Regions from separate parts of the Homo sapiens genome. Here region 1 is linked to region 2. Evidence: fine-mapped expression QTL. Tissue or cell type: thyroid. Region 2 holds a variant in brackets; the other region holds the start of a gene. All regions are shown on one strand. Distances are from middle to middle.

Region 1 (8,107 bases), 22 kb before region 2:
AGCTCTGTAGATCCCTAGGGCCCAGACAATGGGCCCCCTGCAGGCAGAAGCATGTTCCAGCCACCAGGAGGCTACCTACTGTTTCAAAATAAAGACAAGGTTCCTCCCTTGGAGAAAACAATATATATACTATAGTTTATAATCTAGTCTCCACTTTACAAAGAGGACATTACAGTCTCGGTAAAATGCTTTTCACATTCAAAATCATAGCTACCATCTCATTTTACTCTTACAATCCTGGAAGGCACACACAGCTGGCTTTATGACATTTTACCTTTGAGGCAACCAAGGTACTCTGAACCTAAAACAACTTTCTTGGGGGTCACACAGACATTAGTAGAACTGTCACTATACCCCAAGTCTCACCCCAAAAGTATTACCTAAATCAAAATTACTTTTGTAGCTCTTCACACTTCCCTTTTAGCCTATCCGCGTTCTCTAACTACTTAAGGCTTTGTCTGATCAATAATTTAATTAATAAATTAAGGCAGAAATGAAACCACTGACTTAAACAGAATTTTGGCAATACATGTTTATTGGGGGGGGAAGAAAAAGAGGAAGAGGAAGGGGAAGGAAAGAGGAAGGAGAAAAGGAAGAAGAAGGGGAAGGAAGGTTTCTAATATCTTCCACTGAGAATAATCATCAACAATCCTTCTGAAGTGTCATGACAATTCAGCAAAAAGTGTTGGGAAGTAAGCTGATAACTGAATAAGTATACACTCAAAAAAAAGTTTGTGTTTTTTTTATATTAAAAAAAAAAAGAGGCCAGGCACTGTGGCCTCATGTCTGTAATCCCAGCACTTTAGGAGGCTGAGACGGGAGGATCGCTTGAGGCCAGGAGTTCCAGACCAGCCTAGTCAACATAGCGAGACTTCATCTCTATTTTATTTAGGGAAAAAAAAAAAAAAAAAAAAAAGAGCTCTGGAGAGAAACGATAATGTGATGGCCGTAACAACCACCCCTGGAAAACAGCCTACATTCTACTTTGACACAAGTAATGTCAGAGGCAGAGATGACATTCTGCCTAAAGAGTCTTAGAATTACTTCTAAAGGTTATCTACACAAAAATTATACTCGGCTTTGGAAATAAGAAGATAAAAATTCCCATGAAAACACTTAGCAAGTGTAGTCTCTGAAATATAAACCCAATCATATAGTTAACCCTAATAATTACATAATGACACTAGGGCCCTGAAAAAATTATCTTATAACTCTCACTCTTTAGCAGCTTAACAACGCTTTAAAATATAAATTAGGACTCTTTCCTGAGTGGTAATCAGTCCTATTAACCTACCTACCCAAAGCCTTCTGATATATCACCAATACTTCACCATTTCTAATTAAGGCTACTAATATATGCAGACCTACTACAAACTATCAGAAGCCAGTCAGTAAAGGCCGGACGTGGCTGCTCACACCTGTGATCCCAGCACTTTGGGAGGCCGAGGCAGGAGAATCCCTTGAGCCTGGGAGGCGGAGACTGCAGTAAGCCGAGATCACACCACTTCACTCCAGCCTGGGCGAGGGAGGGAGACCCCCGCCCGGTGGCTCACGCCTGTAATCCCAGCACCTTGGGAGGCCGAGGCGGGTGAATCGCCTGAGGTCAGGAATTCAAAACCAGCTTCGCTAACATGGTGAAACCCCGTCTCCCCTAAAAATACAAAAATTAGCCGAGTGTGGTGTCGCGCGCCTGCAATCTAGCTACTCAGGAGGCTGAGGCAGGAGAATCGCCTGAACCCTGGGAGGCGGAGGTTGCAGTCGGAGGAGATCGCGCCACTGCACTCCAACCTGGGGGACAGAGCGAGACTCTGTCTCTCAAAAAAAAAAAAAAAAAAAACTGGCAATGTAATAATTTAGGAAAGCTGAATATTGGAAATGTTAGCTTCTATCAACAAAGATTTCTTGTTCAATTTTTGACCAACACGCTTAAAGGAAAACCAGAGCAGGATCCAGAAAGCAGAAAAAGGGAGAACACAGGAAATTAGCCTTGCTCCACAGAAGAGATTTAACCTACACAATCTTTGTCACAAACACAAAAGAAAGAACATTTTTTGTAAGAAAACTGACAGAGTGGGAGTTTTGGAGTGCCAAAAAAGGGGCTCAAATAAATCAGAAATAAGTACATTATACCAAGCGACTACCTCTATTGTCAACACTGGACATATTTTACAACACAGGATGCACTGCGTCAATAGTAGATAATGAATCATGTATACACATCAGATACACACGAATAACTTGCTTTATACAGAATTCTAGCACTTCTTATATTTCTTGACTGTCTTAGGAATAACCTCTGATTGGGCAGAAAACCCCTAAGTCCTAAAAGTTTCCAACACATTCCATTCTCATCCTTTTGTTGGGAACATTCTAAGCAAAGGGTAAACACTAATTGGGAAATAATGCTCCTCCTCAAGAAACTCCAAAACCTAAGTTGAAATGGAATCGTCTCAAATAGCAGAGGCAAGCATTTAAAAAGACAAACACTTATTTGAACCCCCACGGTTGGTATCGTTTCTGCAGCTCATGAACTTTCTTTTCCAGCCTACGGATGCGCCTCTGACAAACTCAGAACTCATGCACTCAGAGGGAAAAGTAACTGTACTCTTCCCCTCCTAATTAAGTTCAGGCGTAAGGGTCGAGAGAGAGGCAAAGGAACTTCAAATGTTTCCAAGGAAATCTCAAGGGCCCCACCCGGCTTCCGTCCCCACTCGCCAGACAAGGCAGCCGGGGAATAGGGAGGACAAGCTAATTCTAAAGCCAGATTCTCTGCCCTTCCTTGCTCAGCCGGCAGCCAGGCCCTAGCCCCCGACTGCGGAGCCCTGGTTCTCACTTTCACCTCAGCTCTGGCCCTGGAGCTCCCCATACCGGCCTCCTTCCCATGCTGAGCCCCAGCCGGCCAAGCTCCAGGCCCCCTCCCTTACCTGCGCCTCCTGCCCCGGCCGCGCCGGCTGCCCCCCGCCCCAGCCTCCGCTTCAACGGCTCAGCCCCCGGAAGTCGGCCCCCGAGAGCGGCGGTGGGCTCCTCAGGCCGCGGACGGTTGCGGCAGGAAGCGAAGCTGCTTACATGGTTGATGCGGCTTCTCGCTTCCCCCCCCCAAGACTCCGCCCTCTGTTTTCCTGTCCCCCAGTCCGAAATCTTTCCCGGGGGCCGGCTCCTCCCAGCCCGGCCGACGCTCGGATCAGATGCTCAGGCAGAAGGAGTCCAGCCCAGATCGAGTCGTCCTGATCTTTTGGCCGAGATTAGGCCGCTTCAGCCTTCCTGGAAGAAGCCAGGGGGACTGCGCGCGTGAGCGTCACGCATGCGGGGTCAACGGATGGGTGCTTGGTGCTCTGGGCACTGCAGGGGTGCTGGCTGGACTGCGGTTACCGTATGTGTTCGATACTGTGGGCACTCATAATATGTTATTGCTTTGTTGTAGACAGTTCACTCGTGTAGCACTGAACCGGAGTTAGCGATGACTCTGTTTCCAGACTTGCATGACTCCACCAATAACCAGCCATATGATCTTAAGCAAATTGCTCATTTATTTAGGCCTTAGACCTCTGGTGTGTAAAGTCGGATTAATAAAAGGACTCACTTCTTAATACTTTTTTGAGATTAAGTAAATGCACTTAAAGCGAATGGCACAGTTCCCTGACCCAGAGTAAGTGATGTCGGCTTTATAGTTAATTTTTTCATTTAGGTGTTGTGTTGCAAATGCTGATGCAAATAAAGTTACCAAGCCCAAGCCCTATCTTGTTCAGCTTGGCTAGAGTTATTCGTCATTTCTGTCCTGCTGAGAGCGCAGTGCAGTTAACTGCAGAAAACATGCTCGCCGCAGTTGTGGGGCTTGGTAGGGGAGGATGGAAAGCAGACGAAACCTAAAGGGAAATGCAGTTTTAAATTCTGTGAGTCCTTTTCCTCAAGAGTTTTGTCAAATCCCAGCCCAGTTTTCCTGGAGTTGGAAAGCACCATCGAAACCTGCAGGTTGAGTCCAGTGCAAATCCCAGTCACCATCCTCAGCTGGGCCCTTCAGCAATCTTTCTGGGAGTCTGTAGTCAGCTTCTCCCATTCCTTATTACTGCTGCGTCAGACCACCACCACGACCCCCACATTACCTTGACCATCATTCTCATCAGAGAATCATATTTTATACCCACGTGAAAAATCCCAAGGTATCTGGGCGTGACCCTTAACAAGCTAATTCCCCACACACCACAACATTTACCTACATCCACATCTGCCCTGGTCTGCCTTTCTCCCTCATCTCTCTGAGGAAGGGGCCTCTTCTTCCCCAGCTCAATCCTTTTGGCCCCCAATTCACCCTCTCCTGTCTGGGAGCTTGCACCGTATCTGCAACCTCCCCTTTTCCAATGACTCTGCCTCCTCAGCCCATAAAGATGCTCAAGTCTCTGCCTTCCTTTAAAAAAATTTTTTTTAAAAATTTAAGATAAGCAAAAAAGGCCCTCGTAATTATCACCCTATGTTAATATTTCATAAACCTACAATAAAGTATGAAATAGGTACAGAGATCATATGAAAAGAATAAATTGCCCAGCCACGACGACTGCAGTGTATGTAGAAACTCCATCTATGGTTTAAAAAAAAAAAAAAAAAGTGCACTCCGCAAATATTTTTGAGTCCCTAATTTAACCTGCAGTGTGTTAGTTATAGAAGCACTACACTAAGGATAGAATTATGAACGTATCCCACTGCTTCACTTGACTAGCCTAAAAAATAAAAATATATGTGAACATTACACAGTCCATGTCCTCAAGAAGCTTACCGTCTAATATCTATATTAGCTTACAGTTTAATTTCTGTGGAAAAGAGATTGAAAACTGGGCTACTGTTTTTGCAAAAGAAATCATTTTAGATTCTCACTTCACACTAGACATCCAAAATTAATTCCAGATGAATTTTATCTGTAGAGAGATTATTTGTCTGTGTATATATCCTCCTCAAAAACTTTCATTCAAGCACAGATTTAGGATTCTTGCTGAATCAATTATTGTTCGATGATATTATACTTCTATTCCTCTGTATGTATTAGTTGAATTTTACTGCAACTAATAGCGTTCCATCTTTTTCTTTCTTTCTTTATATTGGTTAGTATGACTTTGGACTCATTTTTTTCCAACATGTTATAGTTCATTACTGCCACTATTCATTTCTGTGCTCCAGGTGTCCCCGCCTTGGCTGGTGTGAGCCCCTTCCAGCAGACTCCTGAGTCCATTTGACATGCCTCCATTACCTTTTGAGCACATCTTACTTTTTGTTCTTTTTCTCTCTCCGCCACCCCTTACCCCTGGCAACCACCATTCTACCCACTACTTCTATGAGTTCAACATTTTTAAATTCCATATATATGAGATCTTGTGGTATATTTCTGTGTCTGGTTTATTTCACTTAACATAATGTCCCCAGGTTCATCCATGTTGTCACAAAAGACAGAATTTCCTTATTTTTTAAGGCTGAATAATGTTCCACCGTATATATATACCACATTTTATTTTATTTTTTTGACATGGAGTCTGTCACCAAGGCTGGAGTACAGTGGTGCAATCTGGGCTTACTGCAATCTCCACCCTCTGCCCCAACCCCCCCGACCTCCACCCCACCCCTATTCTCCTGCCTCAGCCTCCCGAGTAGCTGGGATTACAGGCGCCTGTCACTGCACCTGGCTAATTTTTGTATTTTTAGTAGAGACGGGGTTTCACTGTCTTGGCCAGGCTGGTCTTGAACCCCTGACCTCGTGATCCACCTGCCTCAGCCTCCCAAAGTGCTGGGATTACCGGCGTGAGCCACAGTGCCCAGCCCCACATTTTCTTTATTCAGTTGTTCATTGATGGACACTTAGGTTGATTTCATATCTTGGCTATTGTGAATAATGCTGCAATAAAGATGGGAGTGCAGATACCTCTTAAAAATAGTGATTTTGGCTGGACACGGTGGCTCGCGCCTGTAATCCTAGCACTTTGGGAGGCCAAGATGGAAGGATTGCTTGAAGCCAGGAGTTCAACACCAGCCTGGTCAACATAGCAAGACCCCATCTCTATAAAAAGATTTTTTTTAATTTCAATAAAAGAAAAAATAGTGATTTTATTTCCTTTGGATATATACCCTGTAGTGGGATGGCTGGATCACATGATAGTTTTATTTTTAAATTTTTTGGCAACTTCCATACTGTTTTCCATAATGGCTGTACTAATTTGCATTCCTACCAACAGTGTGCAAGGGTTTCCTTTTCTCTATTTTCTCTCCAATCTTGTTATCTTTTGTCTTTTTGATATAGCCATTGTAATAGGTGTGAAGTGATATCTCTCATTGTGGTTTTAATTTGCATTTGTCTGATGATTAATTACGTTGAACTTTTTTTCATATACCTGTTGGCCATTTGTATGTCCTCTTTTGAGAAATGTCTATTCACATCCTTTGCCCATTTTATAATCAGATTATTTGCTTTCTTACTATTGAGTTGTTTGAGTTCCTTATATATTTTGGATATTATCCCTTTATCAGATGTATGGCTGGCAAATATTTGCTCCTGTTCTCTGTTGTCTCTTCAGTCTGTCTATTGTAACCCTTGCTCTGTAGAAACTTCTCAGTTTTATGTAATCCCATTTGTCTATTTGGCTTTTGTAGCCTGTGCTTTTGGGGTCATATCTAAAAAATCACTACTCAGACCAATGTCATGGAGCTTTTCCCTCTCGTTTTTTACAGTTTCAGGGGGTACACATAACGTCTTCAATTTATTTGAGTTGATTATTATATATGGTATGAGATAAGCCTCTAATTTCATTCTCCTGCATATGGATATCCCATTTACCCATTACTACTTATTGAAGAGAATATCCTTTCCCTATAGTGTATTCTTGTCCCCTTATTGAACAATTGACTGTAAATGGGTAAATTTACTTCTGGACTCTTTATTCTTTTTTTCACTTTTTATTTTTTTTTAAAAATGAGCATCCTATTAACTGATAGACTCTTTATTCTGTTCAGTTGGTTTGTCTGTTTCTCTGCCAGTACCATGCTGTTCTGATTACTGTAGCTTTGTAGTGTATTTTGAGATCAAGCAGTATGATGCTTCTAGCTTTGTTCTTTTTGCTCAAGAATTCTTTAGCTATTCAGCCTCTTTTGTCATTCCATAGGAATTTTAGACTTTTTTTTCTAGCTGTGCGAAAAAGTCATTGGAATTTTTATAGGGATTGCATTGAATCTGTGGATCACTTTGGACATTTTAACAATATTAATTCTTTCAACCCATAAACATGAGATGTCTTTTTATTTATTTCTGTCTTCTTCAGTTTCTTTCATCAATGTTTTATAGGTTTCAGTGTGCGGGTCTTTTACTTCTGTTAAATTTCTTTCTTTTTTTTTTTTTTTTTTTTGAGATGGAGTCTCACTGTGTCACCCGGGCTGGAGTGCAGTGGGGCCATCTCGGCTCACTGCAACCTCCGCCTCCCAGGTTCAAGCAATTCTCCTGCCTCAGCCTCCTGAGTAGCTGGGATTACAGGTGCCCACCACTACGCCCAGCTAATTTTTTTGTATTTTTAGTAGAGACGGGGTTTCACCATGTTGGCCAGGCTGGTCTCAAACCCCTGACCTCGTGCTTCGCCTGCCTTGGCCTCCCAAAGTGCTGGGATTACAGGTGTGAGCCACCACACCTGGCCCGTATTTATTTCTAAGTATTTTAATATATTTTTGTAGCTATTGCAAATAGGATTGTTTTATTGATTTCTCTTTCAGATAGTTCACTGTTAATATTTGGAAACAGTACTCATTTTTGTATACTGATTTTATATCCTACAACATTACTAAATTTGTTTATTCTAATAGTTTTTTGGTGCAGTCTTTAGGGTTTTTTATGTATAAGATCATGTAACCTGCCAGGTGTGGTGGCTCACGCCTGTAATCCCAGCACTTTGGGAGGCAGAGGTGGGCAGATCATGAGGTCAGGAGTTCGAGACCAGCCTGGCCAACATGCTGAAACCCCATCTCTACTAAAAATAGAAAAATTAGCCAGGCATGGTGGCGCATGCCTGTAGTCCCAGCTACTCAGGAGGCTGAGGCAGGAGAATTTCTTGAACCCAGGAGGCAGAGGTTGCAGTGAGCCGAGATC
Region 2 (8,107 bases):
TTGGCTCACTGCAACCTCTGCCTCCCGGGTTCAAGCAATTCTCCTGCCTCAGCCTCTTGAGTAGCTGGGATTACAGGCACATGCTACCATGCCCGGCTAATTTTTGTGTTTTTAGTAGAGACGGGGTTTCACCATGTTGGTCAGGCTGGTCTCAAACTCCTGACCTTGTGATCCGCCCGCCTCCGCCTCCGCCTCCCAAAGTGCTGGGATTACAGGCATGCCACCATGCCCGGCCTTCCTCTTTTTTTTTTTTTTTTTAATTATTTTGGCATCAGTCATTTGTAAAAATGGCCATTCTATTTATTAAAGTCCAGAAAGAGAATTTCAAACCTCAGGTTGATTCATGGACTGTTTAAATATACATAAACCTATACAAAGCATTTATGGTGCTTTGGTACCTCAGTTTCTCCCTTTTCAGAAATAGTAATAAATTACCACCCATATTTACTTTATGGATTTTATATGTCAAAAATGTTCTGTGTAAAGTAGGTGTTTAATCTTTATTGTTACTTACTGCTCTTTTACCAGTTGTTATTAGTATTTCTCTACACTTATAGATGTGGCCGGCACCTGCTGGTACCTAACTCTGCAAGTATCTGATTCAATTCATTGAAGAAGATACAATGCAGCAAAGACTTATGGATGTCTAGTATATGCCAGGCATATTATTCCACTGAGTAGCTGAGGCCCATGAGGGAGGTGCCTGTCCTTGAACAGCCCTTTCCTAAAAATCATCATCATCCCATTGTAGCTGCTCCCAGAATGATTTGATTGCTCCATATGAACAAGTCCTATAACACTAGTAACAATGATACCATGAGAGACCGAGCCCCGATGGCCTAAGTAAGGACGAGACCTCAAGTCCTTTGACCCTGGATGCATTATTTCTACTATATCATAGTTCCCTCCTTGTAAGACTGATGTAAGAATCAAATGAGATTATGCAAGTTAAGCATTTAAAGCATCTGGCATAGAGTAAGGACAAAGCATTAGCTACCTCAGTACTACAATTAGTATTGTTATCATCACCCTCTAGGGAGACTTCCCTGACTTCCTTCCATGGTCACCTCTTTTCCTCTGTCATCCTATAGTTTTTTTTTTTTTGGGGGGGGGGTCTAATACCCTCTTTTGGCATTTGAAAGCTCTTATATTGCTTTTCACTTATATATGTCTTTATAGGGTTGTAAACTTCCTAAAGGAAAGTGGCTTATGTTATTCTCTGTCCTCTTCAAATCAGTGCTCAGAAAACTTTCCTATACCTCGTATAGGCACCTAATAAATATTTACTGATTTAGGGGAATGTCTGGACCTCTTCATCCCCATCTCCTAAAAAAAAAAAAAAAAAAAGAAGTTTGACATACTGCCCTATTTGTCTAGGTGTCTTCTAGGTCTATATTATATGAATATTCTCCTTACAATTCCTGCTAGGGTATTTTTTTTTTCTTTATACCTTTTTCCCCTCTACACAGTACAGAGCAACTGATTTTGTTGTTCCTGGGCCTGGAAAAGTAGAGATAACCTACACACCAAGTGACGGAACCCAAAAGGTGACATACCTGGTACATAACTTTGAAGGTATGTATGACTGTAGCATAAGCTTCTTTTTTTTTTAAACAAATGATTTAGATAATATTTTTATTGCTTTTTTTGTTAGTTATGTGACTGCCTAAAAATATAATCTGAATCTACAGTGTTTTTGCAAAACCCGAAACTTGACATAAAGAAGTAATTTGCTTCCATACCTTCCTGTGGCATGAATAAAGGCACAAAAGGGTTACCCACTTAATTGGAAATGCCTTTAGGCAAAGACAAGGAGATGATTATGCATTTATCTTAAAGCACAGAGAGAAGGTTGGCAGAAATCTGCTGTGCATGAATTATATACATTAAATATTAATATTCTCAAATCACCCAGCATATAATCCTGCCCTTTGCTCTGGTAGGGCTCTTGTATCTGGAAGAGGTTTCCTTATATATTTGCTGAAGTTTTCTTCTTGCCCTTCTGGGTATTTATCCTGTGAAAAAGTAGAACATTTGCTTTTTGCCTTTTCTTTCCCAGCTACCCTGCTACCTTTGATGGCAAATCCCACCCAAAAGTTGTTGAAATAATTAGTGGGCCCTTTTCCTTCACTATTGAAGTTGTTGAAAGCACTCACACAAACAAAAATACCCAACACTCACCTACCTTTTGTTTTTCTTGCCTCTTCCAAATAATATCTGTTGGAATCTGGTTCTGCAGGCTTCAGCACCTTTCACCCTGAACCCAAGTTAACCCTGAGCATTGGCATGGATTCAAGTTCTATCTTTAAGTAATAACAAAGTTCAATAATAGTTGTAAAACACAGTGATTACATGTAGCATAATTATTTCTACTTATTTCTACCAACTACAGTAGGAGTGCTCAGTATCCTCCAGGAGATTATAAGAATTTTCATTCAGTATTTGAAATTTAAGTTTTTCTCAATAACTGAGGATTGAGTACACCCCTAAAGTTTAAAATAGATGTTGGGAATTGTAAAGGTAGGGTGTTTGTCCATTCTTGCGTTGCTATAAAGAAATACCTGAGGCTGCGTAAGTTATAAAGAAAAGAGGTTTAATTGGCTCATGGTTCTGCAGGCTGTACAAGCCTGGCTCCAACACCTGTTCCTGGTGAGGGCCTCAGGAAGCTTCCAATCTTGGCAGAAGGCAAACAGACAATAGGTGTATCACATGGCAAGAGCGGGAACAAGAGAAAGAGAAGGGGGAGGTCCCAGACTCTTAAACAACCAGATTTCAAGTGAATTAACTGAGCGAGAACTCACGTAATCACCAAAGGGGATGGTCCTAAGCCATTCATAAGGGATCCAACCCCATGTTCCAATCTCCTCCCACTGGGCCCCACCTCCAACACTGGGAATCACATTTCAACATGAGATTTGGAAGGGACAAATATCCAAACCATATCAGTATGTAAAAGAAGTTTCAAAATTATTTGCCTTTTCTTAAATGTATTTCTGGTTCATATCAGTTTTTGGCATTTCTGCATCTTCAGGATTTTAAAGACTGTATGTTTTTTCATTTCTGCTGTCCTTCCAAAACAAGTTAGAATGTCCTTATCTAGAACTGGCTTTTCTCTCATTATGTGCCTCAGAAATTTGTTGGAAACCTGTCTGGGACTTCTGAAATCTAGTCTCAGATGTGAGAGCTGAGAAGTAGGTCATTTGGTTGTGGTGGGTGATTTTAGCCTTATTACAACTACATTACATTTATTCTTCTCCCTTTTTTCCTCTCACTGGCTTCTCCTCTACAGAAGGTGGTGGTGTTGCCATGGGGATGTATAATCAAGATAAGTCAATTGAAGATTTTGCACACAGTTCCTTCCAAATGGCTCTGTCTAAGGGTTGGCCTTTGTATCTGAGCACCAAAAACACTATTCTGAAGAAATATGATGGGCGTTTTAAAGACATCTTTCAGGAGATATATGACAAGTAACTATAGTTCTTTTTTAACTTTTTCTTTATTCTCAAGTAAGCTGACATTTGCATATAGAGTATGTATCTCCCTATCCCTATGATTCTGGGTAAATTGAGTGAAAATCATCACTGTCTCTTAAAGATAAGGGCAAAACTGAGGTTTAGCAGGAGTGAAACAAAACCACTCTGACTTGCTTTTATAAGATAAACATGTTCTTAAATAAGGTCCCCACA[T/G]GAATTGTTTTCAGAGCCAGGTTCTTTAATGTTTAAATAAACGTACGCTGTTAGTGATAAGTTCTAATTTTTCATGTGTGAGTTTCTAAGTCAGACCCATTTCCATTCTTTCTGAAGCCCATTGTTAGAATTTAAAATTCTGTTGGCCAGGCACGGTGGCTCATGCCTGTAATCCCAGCACTTTGGGAGGCCGAGGCGGGCGGATCACGAGGTCAGGAGATCGAGACCATCCTGGCTAACACGGTGAAACCCTGACTCTACTAAAAATACCAAAAATTAGCCGGGCGTGGTGGCGGGCGCCTCTAGTCCCAGTTACTGGGGAGGCTGAGGCAGGAGAATGGCGTGAACCCGGGAGGCGGAGGTTGCAGTGAGCCGAAATCACGCCACTGCACTGCAGCCTGGGCGACAGAGCGAGACTCCGTCTCAAAAAAAAAAAAAGAAAAGAAAAGAAAAAAAAGAATTTAAAATTCTGTTTTAGTGGAGTCATTTGAACTTAAGTCTAAGTTTATAACAACACTGGCTTCCACAGCACAGGAGGTGAGCATGTGTTAATATTTAAGATTGGCATAACTCCCTTTAGGTGCAAGTGTTCAGGCCAAAATGTTCCTGAGGCATTTTGATTCCTCCTCCTGCTGCCCATCTATACCAAGCCCAGAAACTGTCTGGAATATATTTTAGTTTCCTGAATGACACCAAGAAGTAGAACAGTCTTTTCAAAAATGTATTTTAAAAATAAGCTGAATCTCAAGAATCTGATCTATAGTATAATGAAAACTGAAAAGTGAAGTAGTCATTGGGATACTCTACTGTCTCACTTAATTCTCACGGCTTCCCTGCAAGGTGGGTAAAATTGTTCCTACAGATAGTCAAATTGAGTTTTACAGTTAGAAAATGATTGGGCTAGGATTTGAGCCAATGTCTGTCAGATTCCTGAGTTTCTGCTACTTCTACTAAAATATGCTGCTTCTTGTGTGTCCGGTCTTCTGTTTGGGACAAGCAGATGATATCCCTAACAAAATCAATTTTCTTTATTATTATTCTCTTTTACCTTTTGTTTCCCAGGCAGTACAAGTCCCAGTTTGAAGCTCAAAAGATCTGGTATGAGCATAGGCTCATCGACGACATGGTGGCCCAAGCTATGAAATCAGAGGGAGGCTTCATCTGGGCCTGTAAAAACTATGATGGTGACGTGCAGTCGGACTCTGTGGCCCAAGGTACAGAGGTGGAGCCTGGCCTGTAGGAACAGGGTCATTCCAGGGTAGTTCTCTAATTTGGGAAGGGGAGTTTTGTAGTCCTTTGTTGTAAAATCTTGGAATGTTAAACCTCCAGGTCCACCGTCTTACCTGACAGCTAAGGAAATTAAGCTCAGACTAGAGAAATGATTTACTCAAGACCACATGGGAAGTAAATTAGTGGATTGACACTCCTGGCTCCAGTGTCACTCCTTGAAGTTTTAAAGCCTACCTGATCTGAAAATCACTCCCTTTCCCTGCCCTCCTTGTCCTTTGGTGAAAATGTAAAAAACCAGGGCACTCAGGCAAGGAGGGATAAAGTGAGGAGCTTGATCATGTCATAACCAAGCTTTGGTGCCTGCAAAGCTCATTTATTGGGCAGCAGGACCTACTCATGTCCCTCTGCCAGCTGCTGTTCTGGTAGAATATAAAACAAATGTGTTTGGCTGGGCACAGTGGCTCACGCCTGTAATCCTAGCACTTTGAGAGGCCAAGGCAGTGGATCACTTGAGGCCAGGAGTTCAAGACCAGCCTGGCCAACATAGCAAAACCCCATCTCTACTTCAAAAAAAAAAAAAAAAAAAAATTAGCCAGGTGTGGTCGCATGCCTATAGTCCCTGGCACTCAGGAGGCTAAAGCATGAGAATTTCTTGAGCCTGGGAAGCGGAGGTTGCAGTGAGCTGAGATCACGCCACTATACTCCAGCCTGGGCAACAGAGCAAGACTCTTGTCTCAACAACAACAAAGAAAAAGTGTTTTTGTTTACTGCTTAGCTTACACACAAATCAATTGAGCAAAGAACCCTAGGGGCTGTTTACAGAAATTCCAGGAGAAGTTTCATGCATGGGGTAAGGGCCAAATCAACAGAAACACAGCGCCTGGTTTCCTCAGCACCAAGTTGCCCTTCAGTTTCAGTTGCCCTTGGTAGCTGTATGAACTTGAATCTCCCCAGATGAATGTTTGTTAACTTTAATTATGTTTGTTTTTCCCAAGAAGTACTACTTTTTCTGTCTCTTATCAGTGTTAAACATCTCCTCTCAGTTTGAAAATCAGTAGATCAACCTGGTTAAAGATAACTTTTTGCCAGATAAATGAGTTACACAACTCTCCTTACCATCCTTCTGTTTCTCTACATCCTCACAATCATTTGTACTGAATGCAACAGAGGAAGGAGTGTTATTGCTTTGTGATGACTCCGTGGTTGATTATTAACTTCACAGGTGATGTTGGGAGGTAGCAAAAATGGAGAAAAGAAGAAAATCAATTATATAGATATAAGAGTTGTAATGTGGTTCTTTCAATAAGAAACCACAGAAGAGAACTGTTGTACTGAGGGTATGAAAGAGAGCGAGGAAGGGCAACTGGGATGTTCTTAGATCCAACCGATCCTGTGTTTACCTGCCTTCTCTTCCCAGTCCCAGCAAGTGTATGAGCAGCTTGAGGGTTCTTAAGAGACAGCTCTCGTCCATCTTTATTTCCCCAGAACAGCAGAGCATTGCACATAAGAATAACAATAATAGATTGAGCTCTGTGTCCAGTACTATTCTAAGGAATATAAATATATATTCATATATATTTATGAATATATGTATATTTATCTAATCCCACAGCAACCTAGTGAAGTAGGTGCTGTTATTACTCCCATTTTACAGATAAGAAAACTGAGCCGCAGTAGCTATGAAGTCATAGAACTAGAGTGGAATGTAGGCAGTTGGACCCTGAACCCTCCATCAAGGAGTAGGTATCCCTGAAATAAGTGAGGGGAAAATGCAGCCTTTCCAGACCCATTGGCTCTGATATCTGGAGCGGGGATCCTGCCTTCTGAAAGGCAGAATTATTGGTGATTCCATGTGCTCTTGTTTACTTTGCTTACCAAGACCTATCAAGATTGAGTCATTTATGCTCTCATCTCTGAGAGACTCAGTGCTCTTCATGCAGTTGGACCCAACGCTTCATGCTCCACTACTTACAGGGTATGGCTCTCTCGGCATGATGACCAGCGTGCTGGTTTGTCCAGATGGCAAGACAGTAGAAGCAGAGGCTGCCCACGGGACTGTAACCCGTCACTACCGCATGTACCAGAAAGGACAGGAGACGTCCACCAATCCCATTGGTAAGATGGTGTTTACATTGATTTCTCACCAGAGAGTGCTCTCCAAAGCAGCCCAGATGTGTTCCCTTGGCTGCTCAGTGTTTTGTGTGCAAAGTCATCACCAAGTAGCTGATTTGTTCTACTAGTAAGATCTATTTGAATATGCTTCTTAAAATATACAATATTTGCTTTTCTGTTTTGTGGGAGAACATAGGTTACAGAGAGGAATGTTATCAACAAGCATTTTCCTTTACCTCTGGTGCAGTGAAATGTCACATAAGGCTACAAATCTAAAAGTCACATGGATAGATCCTTTTAACAAGTTTCAAAGATAGCACTTCAAAAAGAGATTACAGCCTGGAAAAAGGAGACCAATATAGACAAGAGATAGAAGAGATTGTGACCTTTTTCAAATTAGAAAATGCCTTAAGTTTCAAACACTAGTACCATGCCATGAAAATGTGTTTTTTTAAAGTTTCTGTTTGGTAAAATATTTCTAACTCTCCTAAAACTTCTAGCCCATGTGGTTAGTATCTAAAGAAGTCTGTCACCTAAACAAAAAACTATTCTGTTTTGGGGAACTATGAGACATTTGGAAACCTCTATAACTAGGATGATTGGAGTGTTGTGTTTTTTTTCCCCTCTTTTAGCTTCCATTTTTGCCTGGACCAGAGGGTTAGCCCACAGAGCAAAGCTTGATAACAATAAAGAGCTTGCCTTCTTTGCAAATGCTTTGGAAGAAGTCTCTATTGAGACAATTGAGGCTGGCTTCATGACCAAGGACTTGGCTGCTTGCATTAAAGGTTTACCCAAGTAAGTATAAGATGCCCTAGTTTCTATGGTCAAATTAACACTTATCCTCACTGGGCTCAGAGCATCGGTGCTTTCTGGAATTATATAAATTGTTATTCATCATCTAGTTCAGGAGTCAGCAGATATCTGTAAATTGTCAGATAGTGAACATTTTAGGCTTTGTGGAACATATAGTCTTTTTGCAACTACACAACTATTCAACTTTGCCTCTGCCATTGTAGCAGGAAAGCAGTCATAGACAATACAGAATCAAATGGTGTGGCTGGTACCAATCAAACTTTTAT

What was found. PIP is the estimated chance that this variant, and not a neighbour inherited with it, causes the effect.
Region 1: it holds the start of PIKFYVE, and the variant in region 2 is fine-mapped to the expression of PIKFYVE in thyroid (GTEx, PIP 0.92).

What each region holds. Positions count from the first base shown.
Region 1 is chr2:208,261,233-208,269,339 of GRCh38, reverse strand. PIKFYVE (phosphoinositide kinase, FYVE-type zinc finger containing) reads right to left here and starts at 3,085. Exons shown (of 42, transcript NM_015040.4): 1 at 2,925-3,085. It also overlaps the pseudogene MYL6BP1. RefSeq lists a silencer at 2,799-3,068 and an enhancer at 3,199-3,248.
Region 2 is chr2:208,238,787-208,246,893 of GRCh38, reverse strand. IDH1 (isocitrate dehydrogenase (NADP(+)) 1) reads left to right here. Exons shown (of 10, transcript NM_005896.4): 5 at 1,470-1,575; 6 at 3,290-3,467; 7 at 4,749-4,900; 8 at 6,891-7,031; 9 at 7,661-7,823. Among named protein-coding and RNA genes, the nearest start is that of IDH1, 12 kb to the left of the region's middle. The variant T/G (reference allele first, on the strand shown) is at 3,687.